2 separate regions of the Homo sapiens genome follow, and region 1 is linked to region 2. The links come from fine-mapping of genetic effects on gene expression. Tissue or cell type: whole blood. Region 2 holds a variant in brackets; the other region holds the start of a gene. All regions are shown on one strand. Distances are between the middles of the regions. Region 1 holds the start of PDE5A (phosphodiesterase 5A). Region 2 overlaps PDE5A (phosphodiesterase 5A).

Evidence for each region.
Region 1: it holds the start of PDE5A, and the variant in region 2 is fine-mapped to the expression of PDE5A in whole blood (INTERVAL, PIP 0.94).

The regions. Positions count from the first base shown.
Region 1 is chr4:119,626,844-119,632,353 of GRCh38, reverse strand. PDE5A (phosphodiesterase 5A) reads left to right here and starts at 3,550. Exons shown (of 21, transcript NM_001083.4): 1 at 3,550-3,834. The coding sequence starts at 3,683. It overlaps LOC107986192 (a long non-coding RNA gene), which reads right to left and starts at 4,564. Exons shown (of 1, transcript NR_165235.1): 1 at 1,599-4,564. RefSeq lists silencers at 3,217-3,616, 4,837-5,116 and an enhancer at 4,657-4,706.
Region 2 is chr4:119,591,174-119,596,173 of GRCh38, reverse strand. The region is part of intron 3 of PDE5A (phosphodiesterase 5A); the gene reads left to right. Among named protein-coding and RNA genes, the nearest start is that of PDE5A, 35 kb to the left of the region's middle. The variant C/AC (reference allele first, on the strand shown) is at 2,042.

The DNA.
Region 1 (5,510 bases), 36 kb before region 2:
TTATATTTCTTTTTTGTGTTTTTGCTTTGTTGCATTTGTTTTTTCTATTTGTATGACCAAAATCTTTAGCAGTACAGGTAGGTAACAACCAAATAATGTAGAACCCCATAAGCCACGTTACAGAGTTTGAATTTTATTTTAGCACAGTGGGAATACATTGAAGGTCTTTAGTTAAGCTGTTGCTCATGAGCAACAAATGAGCAATGACATATATGTATGTATATACACATATATATCATTGATTTTATATATATATATATATATATCTTAGTCCACTTGTGTTGCAATAACAAAATACCACAGACTGGGTCATTTACAAAAATTAAATATATATATACATATACACACATATATATATCATACATATACACATACATACATCATTGCTCATTTGTTTGTTATAAATAGCATTAACAGCATTTTTCAAGTTATATCCTGGGAGTGTTTATGATTTACTTATTCTTCAACTAATTCCATAACAAGATTTGAGGTGCTTAGAACAATTCATGCCAAGTTAAAACAAAATAATTGGGCAAATTGGGATAAAGAATAAAATGGAGTTGAAAAACAAGAGGCCCAGGTAATGTCAGTTCAAAATATGCTTACCTTTAACTACTTTAAATTTACAGGAGGTATAGTTACACATTTTGGCTGAATCTCCCAGAGACTAGAACTGTTTGAGACACTTCTGTTCCCCAATCCCTTGTGATATGTTTCTCAGGTAATAGGCCTTCACAGTAACTCCCAAACTATCATATATACCACACAGACTTGAGATTCACTATTGAGAGAATCTATGTACTGTTTTTCTTTTTTTTTCTTTTTTGTTATAGAGCCGGGGGTCTTACACTGTCACTGAGGCTGAAGTGCAATGGCACGATCATGGCTCACTGCAGCCTTGACCTCCTGGGCTCAATCCTCTTGCCTCAGCCTCTCGAATAACTAGGATTACAGGTGTGTTCCCCCATGCCTGGCTAATTTTTAAAAATTTTGTGTAGAGATGGGGTCATGCCATGTGGCCCAGGCTGGTTCAAACTCCTGAGCTCAAGTATCCTTCTACCTCTCCCTCCCAAAGTTCTGAGATTACAGGAATGAGCCACTGTGCCCAGCCTATAGATTGTTTTTCTTGAAGCAATTTTTCAGAAACCTTCCTGGTTTCTGATAATTTAACCCTTTCAGGTTAGGAGAGAAAAATGAACATTTTGATATTACCCACTGTCTTAGTCCATTTGTGTTGCTGTAATAAAATATCACAGACTGGGATATTTATAAACAATAGAAATTAATTTCTCTCAGTTCTGGAGGCTGGAAACTCCAAAATCAAAGTGCCAGCAGATTTGGCAACTGGTGAGGGCTGCTCTTTGCTTACAAAATGGCACCTTGTTGCTGCATCCTCAGCAAGGGTCAGTGCTGTGTCTTCACATAGTGGAAAGAATAGAAGGGGCCAACTGTCTCCTTTGGGCCTTTTTTTAAAAAGGCACTAATGCATTCACAAAGGCAGAGCCCTAATGGTCTAATCACCACTTAAAGGCACCTCCTCTTAATACTGTTGAATTAGGGATTAAGTTTCAACATGAATTTTGGAGGGAATACAAACATTGAAATGATTATACGTGTTTATTTAATCAAGTATCCAACAAAAGCAAATAATTCAAGCCCCAAATTCACTGCATCTTTAGTAGATAAGCAGAGTTTTAAATTACGATTGATCTCCTGTTAGGAGGAATGCATGGATTTCCACAAGAAAAAACTGTACTGAGGAGAAACTTTCCACAGTAATGTGCCACTTTTCAGTCAACGACAGACCACATATATGAGTCCCATAAGATAATACTATATTTTTACTGTACCTTTTCTATGTTTAGATATGTTTAGACACACAAATATCATTGCATTACAATTGCCTACAGTATTCAGTACAGTAATATGCTGTATAGATTTGTGGTCTAGGAGCAATAGCCTAAGTGTGTAGTAGGCTGAGCCATCTATTTTGTGTTAGTACACTGTGATGTTCAGAGAAGGATGAAATTGCCTAAGGATACATTTCTCAGAATGTATCCTGTTGTTCGGTGACGCATGACTGTATTCCATGAGCACTATAATCACTATCATAGTAACACATTAGGAGAGAATTCTCATTTCTAAATCCAATATAATTTATCACCCATTAGTTCATACTCTACTGCTTTGATTGCTTTTCTTTGGTTGTGGCTACCTGCATACAGCAGTAAAGTTTCAGAAAAACTGAAGTCGCAAAAGGTCAATTACTCAATGAAGGAAAGATAAACCATTGCATTGGGGGACTAGAAGATACTTTTAAAAGTTCTCAGATTATCAATTTAATGATGTGTTTCTATGTAGTGAATAATGCCTTAAATTCTTGCCAAGAGTATTTAGAAGGAAGTTGTCAGAAGTATATCAGCTAACTCATTTTTTTTTATATCACTGCTAATGGTGTCATTCACACATTGTGCAACCCATAATTCCAGATTTAATTCTACCAAAAAATATAGGTCATTGCAAAATGCCATATTAAAACTGCCAATGCATGACAGGAAGATGGGGATGCAGACAAAGCAAAGGATGACACCAATTCCTTTTTTAAAGAAGCAAGATAGGGATTGGACAAAAAGGCTGAGCCATTTTTAATGGATACTTTTGAGGGAGTGTTAATTCCAATTTAATTAAAATGATGCATTAATTTAAAATTGGGATAACTGGTTGCCCTCGACTGCACCTGGGTTGCGCCAGTGCTCTCGGATTAACCTAATTGTACAGAGGTGCCCTTGTTTTCTAACTTCATGCACAAAGCATTGGAAATTATTTGTTTGCTTTTTCTTTTCCAAGTAAATCTTTTTCCAGTTATGCATAAGGGAAGTTTGAGGCAATGGTTAAAGGCACTTAAGTTATAATTATTGCTGTTATCATTAACATTAAGCACGGGTATGGCTTTGTTGCAAGTTACCCACCTACACCTGCAAATCTCTCTTGCTAGCACACGCCCCAGCTCTCTCCACCCGCAGTGGTCCGTGGCTGGACCGCTTTAAGTCACTGAGCGGGCTGGGCTCTGAAGGAGGTCGGTCCCGCTCCTCCCAGACCCAAGCGTAGGGCTAGGGAAAAGCTAGGCGGGAAGGTCATTGCACTCCCAGGCCCCAGGAAAAGGGCCCAGGGTCTCATCATCTCTTACTTTCGGGCAAAACTTCCCACATCGCGACCTTCCCTCCCTGGGGCACTCTGAGAACACACCCAGTCACCTAGCGCGCTCCCCAGAAGTCGGCTTGGCACACAGCGCACCCCAGCGGCCGCGCGGCCTCCTTCCAGCCGCCGCCACTTGGCTTCCGGAGAGCTCGCCGGGCGCTGCCGCTGCCGCCGCCGCCGCCGCCTCCTGGGAACCAGGGGACTGAAGAGCCTGCGAGAGCGGAACACTGCCGGACCCCGGGTGGGGGGGGCGCAGCAGCTGCGCCTGGCCCCGCCCACCACACCTGGGCGCCCGTAGAACCGCGCGGGGCGGGGCGGGGCAGGAGGCTGGCCTGGCGCTCCGGCCGCTTTGTCGAAAGCCGGCCCGACTGGAGCAGGACGAAGGGGGAGGGTCTCGAGGCCGAGTCCTGTTCTTCTGAGGGACGGACCCCAGCTGGGGTGGAAAAGCAGTACCAGAGAGCCTCCGAGGCGCGCGGTGCCAACCATGGAGCGGGCCGGCCCCAGCTTCGGGCAGCAGCGACAGCAGCAGCAGCCCCAGCAGCAGAAGCAGCAGCAGAGGGATCAGGACTCGGTCGAAGCATGGCTGGACGATCACTGGGACTTTACCTTCTCATACTTTGTTAGAAAAGCCACCAGGTAAGAAGAGGACCCACGGAAGACCCGGGGCTGATTTCTCTCCCCTGTTGAATTGTGCCCTTCGTTCACCCCTGTTCCCAGGCCCTTTGCTTTTGAAGTAGGTCCTCGGTCCTGTTACGAGGTAGAAACCTCAACTCTAAGCGAGCACAGTCGAAAAACTCAAGTGTCGGATTTGATACAACTTGCTCACAAAGTTCAAATACAAAAATGTACTTGCCGACCTCCCACCCTCACCCCCGACCCTCTTGGTATTCCCCGGGAACATGATTATTTTCATACATCCGTGCTCACGGGCCTTCCCCTAGCCCCTCTCTAGCCCTCTGGTTCCCCAAAATCCAATCAGCAAAACCCAAACAGTTTCTGAGCCCCTTCCCTGCAGCTCCGGAAGCACCATTTCCAAGTCGGTCTTGATGGCTCCGCTCCTCCCCCGTCCCCCCTCGCCCTGGCCCTGGCTGGGCGGGGAAGCTGGGGTGAGGGACGAGTCCACGGGACAGCCCAAAGGCAACATGACGGAACCTTGCCAAAGTGAGTGCGGTTGCCTTTTCCCCCCTTCCAGTCTCCTGCTTGTCCCGCGCGCCTCCTTTCACTCGCTTTTCCGCCGAAGGCTGTGCCGCCAAAAGTAGAGCTCTGCAGAGGGGTTTGCGGCGTGCACACAAAGGGCGCAGGGGAGGCGCCGCCTGGAGCGGACCCCAAGGGGCAGCGCAGACCCCAGAGGCCAGCTCTTTCTGGTCCAGAGCCAAGCGCCGGGGCGGCCCTTGCGGAGGGCGGGGAGGAGGGAGCCTGTCCTTTTGGAGGCGGCTGCGCAGCGGGCAGTCGGGGCGCTCGTGGGAAACGCTCGCGGGAGAGTTGGGGAGGAATTGAGACTGGGAGCAGAGGGACAAGAAGAGTGGAGCAGAGAGTGCTTGGCGGGCGGGTGCCCCGAAGCCTGAGGAATTGATGCATAGTCGGGGTGCGTGGACTCCAGGACGCGCCCCTTTGCAGAAAGAGTCCGTGCCCCGCTGCCGCCTGCTCTGGGCAGCGGCCGTCGGGCAGCGGGTGCTGGCCGTCTTGGCCGGGAGGGTGACACACGCCCGGCAGTGATGGTCGAGGAGCCCGCCCGGGTTCGACGCCCGGGTCCCACTCGCCGGCGCGCGGCCGCGGCTCTGCCGGTCGCTCCCCGCCAGGGGGCGGCGCAGCGCGGGGCGAGCGGGAGGCGACGGGCGGCGGCGCGGAGGCCGGGGCCGTGAGGGAGCTGGTTCTGAGTCGCCGACCTCACCTCACCTCACCTGCGCGCGTTGTTGCCCCTACGGAGCCTCCTGGAGTCCAGGATCGGCGGAGTTCGAAAACGAACTTCCCACGTTTGCTATGTTGCCCTTTGGAGACAAAACAAGGTACTTCCTTCAGCATCCCCCTACGTCCCTTCCCACTTTTTCCGGGGGCGCGGCGGGTCTCGGGTGCTGGGTGGTGGCGCCCCGGTGGCACCAGTGGGACGATGTATCATTGAAAATTGACTGTATAACTTTTGTTGTTGTTGTTATTCTTTGCTCTCTTGCAGATGTATTAATAAGGGTCTTAAATTGGGCCCTTTTTAATCTTGTTTTGTTTTGTTTTGTTTTGTTTTTTTCCTAAGGAACATCCAGAGTTGGTGTCAATTTAGTCACTTTCAGGGTTTTTTGACAGAGGGGAAGGCTCCGGGA
Region 2 (5,000 bases):
GCTCATCCAACTACAGTGGTCATTAACGGATTTCATTCAAATTGAGGTTTTGAAAAAAATGGAAATCATAGCTAATTCTAATTATGTAAATTTCAATTTGAAATTTTAACAGGCAAATGAAAATATGTTAGTTTATATTTCACCTAACTAGAAGATTTGGATTCTGTTATCACTGAATTCCCTCTTCATTTTACACTTATTTGGAAAAAAGAGTTAATAAATTATCAGTTAAACTGAATATTTCAATTGAGCATTCTCAATCCTGACTGTGTATTACAACCAACTGGAGAAGTCTAAAAGATTACCAATTGTATTAATTGGGGTTCTCCACAGAAACAGAATCAATAGGATATATGAGGATATATGAGGGGATTTATTTATGGAAATTAGCTCATGCAATTATGGAGACCAAGAGGTCCCACAGTCTGCCATCTTCAAGCTGGAGAACAGGAAAACCTGTGGTGTAATTCAGTCTGAGGCTGAAGGCCTGAGAAATGGGAGATTTGCTGGTGTGAGTCCTAGAATCCAAGGATCTGAGTATTTGAAGTTCTGTTGTCTCAGAGGAGGGAGAAGATGGATGTCCCAGCTTCCGAAGAGAGAGCAATATATGCTCTTCCTCTGCCTTTTTGTTCTGTTTGGGCCCTTAGTGGATTGGATGATGCCCACCTACATTGGTGAGGGAGAATCTTTTTCACTCAGTCTACTGATTCAAATGCTAATTTCTTCTGGGAACACCCTCACAGACACACGCGGAAATGTTTTACCAGTTATCTGGGTATAGCATTTAAAAATTCTAATGCCGAGGTTTCACCTTAAATCAGAATCTCAGGGATTGGGACCCAGGTATTAGTATTTGTTAAAGCTCCCAAATGACTGCAGTGTGTGGCCAAGGTTGAGAACCACTGCCAATCATATTAGAAGTACTTGATGCTTCTACTTGATTTATATTCAAATTCTGACATTTATTCTCCTTCCTCCATCTAGTGTGTTACCAAACCCCATTGATTTTTTTCATTAGAATGTTTCTGATTTCAATATTTTTTTCTTTTTATTCGTGCTACCTGCATGCACCATGATTCAGATTTTGAAGTAATGCCTAAGGTTTTTAAATGTTCTTGTAAGGTGTTTCTATCCTTGCAGTCAATTTCCCTTTAGTCCATTCTACATATCACTGCCTGGAAATTTGCCTAAAACACAGCTTTCTAAATCAGTGCTTCTAAAACTGTGTTGTGCATAGGAATCACCTGGGGATTTTGTTAAAATGCAGATTCTGAATTCAGTAGGTCTGGGTAGAACCTGAGATTCTTTTCTAACAAGTACCAAGTTGATGATTACCTGGGTCTGCTGATCACAATTTGATTAACAAGGCCCTAAGTCAGTTACTTCTCAGTAGTCATTCTCAGTGCCTTAGAGTTGCCACATGGTTTCTTAAAAAGTGTAGTTCCAGCAGTAGTAACTAAAAATGCCTGCAGCAATGACGTAATATGAGATTAATTAATTAGTTTAATTAACTAAGTATGTGAATGAATACATAAAATTGAAAAGGCCATACATGGACTGATCATTATTGTGTTATTAATATGGTTGCCAGGTATATCAAATTTTTAAAGAAATGTGTCCCATGCATTATTTGGGACATCATTATACTAAGAAATTATTTGTTGTTTATCTGAACTCAAATCCAACTCAAATTTCATCTGGCAGGCCTAGTTATAAACCACAGACTAAGATTCCGTGCACTTAGGAAGACAATGTTCAGCTTTTAGTTATTAAGGATATTTTAAAATCGTGGCCCCCAAAACAGCTTTGTACCGGCAAAGGGATTCAGCCTGAATTATGCCCTGATTAAGCTTCTCTTTCTAGATAGTGTGAACAATTTCTCCAACAGTCAGGATTGGGGGAACTGATGAGAATGCAACAGAATCACTAGGAAGAAGTGAGTAGGATGGCCCTTTCTACAGAAAGTATCCTCAGGATATACATTCTTCCATATTATGACTGCCGGTGAGGATGATTTAAATTAAATAAAAAATTAAAAAAA[C/AC]ACAGCTATATTGAGATATAATTCGCGTACTGACATGATTTGTCTGTGTCCCCACCCAAAATCTCACCTTAAATTATAATCCCCATAATCCCTACGTATCAAGGGCGGGACCAGGTGGAGGTAATTGGATCATGTGGGCGTTTTCCCCCATGCTGTTCGTGATAGTGAGTGAGTCTCATGAGATCTGATGGTTTTATAAGCATCTGGCATTTCCCCTACTTGTACTCACACCATCCTGCCGCCCAAGGTGTCTGCTTCTCCTTTGCCTTCTGCCATGATTGTAAGTTTCCTGGGGACTCCCCAGCAATGAGGAACTGTGTGTCAATTAAATCTCTTTCCTTTATAAATTACCCAGTCTCAGGTATTTCTTCAGAACAGTGTGAGAACAGATTAATACACATATAATATAATTTACCCAGCTTAAGTGTACAATTTGATGAATTTGAGATATGTATATTCGATCATGTAACCACCACTGCAATCAAGATATAGAACATTTCTGTCACTTCAAATGTTCCCCTGTACCCCTTCATAGTTGATCTCCTCCTCCCTTAACCCACAGCTCCTGACAAGCACTGATCTGCTTTTTGTCACTATTGTTTTGCTTTTTCTAGAATGTCATTTAAATGGAATCATACAGTATGTGGTCTTTTGTATGTAGCTTCTTTCACTTAGCCTAATGGGTGTGAGATTCAGCCCTACTGTTGGATGTATCAGTAGTTTGTACCTTTTTATTGCTGAGTGATTTATTCCATGGTATGGATATACTACAATTTGTTTATGCATTCATCAGTTGATAAACATTTCAGTTATTTCCAGTTTGTGTCTATTACAAAACAAAGCTGCTGTCAGTGTGTTTGCATACAGACCTTTGTGTGGACTTATGCTTTCACATCTTTTGGGTAAATACATAGGAGGGCAGTTGCTAAGTCATATGGTAGGTATTTATTTAATTTGATAAGAAACTTCCAAACTCTTCCAAAGTAGCTGTACCATATTTCATTCTTATCAGCAGTGTATGAGAGTTCCCCTTACATCACATCCTTGGCAACACATAGTGTATCAGTCTTTTTAATTCTAGGCATTCTACTGAGAGATGATTTAAATTTCATTACATGAATATGTAACCCCACTCTTAGCCAAGGACCTGCTGCCTTCTTACAGATCTGATTGAAGTGGGTTTGGCCACAGATCCCCAAATAGCCCGAAGCTCTCTCCTTTAGACTTCTGCTGGGTTCCTGAGCTTTCTCATGTCTCTCTCTGTGCTCTCACATCCTCTCCTGCTGGTGTCTGTTTTACCTTGTGGTGACTTAATATGAGCCTTGGACTCTTACACTAAGCATTTCATGAGATGAAAAAATCTTCAGTAGCTTCACTGGGGACTAAATACAGATTGAGTATACCTAATTTGAAAATCCAAAATGCTCCAAAATGTGAAACTTTTTGAGTGCTAACATGACCCTCAAAAGAAATGCTCATTGAAGCATTTTGGATTTTTCTGTTAGGGATGCTCAACTGATAATAATGCAAATATTCCAAAATCCAAAAATAATCTAAAACTTGAAACATTTCTAAGTCCCGAGCATTTCGGATAAGGGATGTTCAATCTGTAACTTTATTCAAGAGAGGGCTTCCAGAACACAGCTTTTTTTTTTTTTTTTTTTTTTTTTTTTTTTAAACAGAGTCTCGCTCTGTCACCCAGGCTGGAGTGCAGTGGTGCGATCTCGGCTCACTGCAGCCTCCGCCTCCCGGGTTTGCGCCATTCTCCTGCCTCAGCCTCCTGAGTACCTGGAACTACAGGCGCCCGCCACCACGCCCGGCTAATTTCTTTTTGTATTTTTAGTAGAGACAGGGTTTCACCGTGTTAGCCAGGATAGCTACGATCTCCTGACCTTGTGATCCGCCCACCTCAGCCTCCCAAAATGCTGGGATTACAGGCATGAGCCACCACGCCCGGCTTTTTTTTTTTTTTTTTTTTTTTTGAGACAGAGTCTCACTCTGTCACCAGGCTGGAGTGCAGTGTGGTATGATCTCGGCCCACTGCAACCTCTGCCTCCCGGGTTCAAGCAATTCTCCTGCCTCAGCCTCCTGAGTAGCTGGGACTACAGGCGTGCGCCACCACACCCAGCTAATTTTTGTATTTTTAGTAGAGATGGGATTTCCCCATGTTAGCCAGGATGGTCTCGATCTCTTGACCTCGTGATCCGCCTGCCTCAGCCTCCCAAAGTGCTGGGATTACAGGCGTGAGCCACTGCGCCCGGCCCAGAACACAGCTTTTTAAACATCTTGCTGACCCTCCCCATTCTCCTTCCTTCTCATCTTGCTCCCTTTCCTCCCAGGTTCACACTGCCAAGTTCAAAATTATTTCTCCTGAGAATTAACGTTTTCAGAGAAAAGAATGAAGAGAGACAGAACAGACACACTATCAAGCGTGGCTGTTATAATATAAAAAGTAATTTGGCTGGCCAAAAAATAAACCCAGGCCACTAACAAGGTGCAATATTTGACTTCCAGAATTATCTTTAAATTTATATCTGTATAAACAAACTCAGAGTAGTGTTTGCTTTTTATGTACACATAACTACTCTTTGTCGTGAAAATTTTAAACCAAAATGGAAAGTTGCAGGGAGGCTTTGGGGACTAATTATTAAGATTGCTTGCTCTGGGCTTGAATCCCATCTTTACCACTTAGTTGCTGGCTGACAAACCAGGATGGAACTGGTTAATCCCTTTGATCTTCAGTTTCCTCATCTGCAAAATGAGGGCAATAAAAGGATCTACCTTAAAGGGTTATTGGGAAGATTAAATGCATTCATGTGAGTGAAGGGTTTAACGTAGTTCCTGGCACACTGGAAGTGCATCAGCTACTATTCTTTAAAAGGAGATGTAGAACTAATAGAGCTTTAAAGAGAGACAAGGAATAAGAGCTGCATGAAGAGGTCATTAGCCACATAATAAT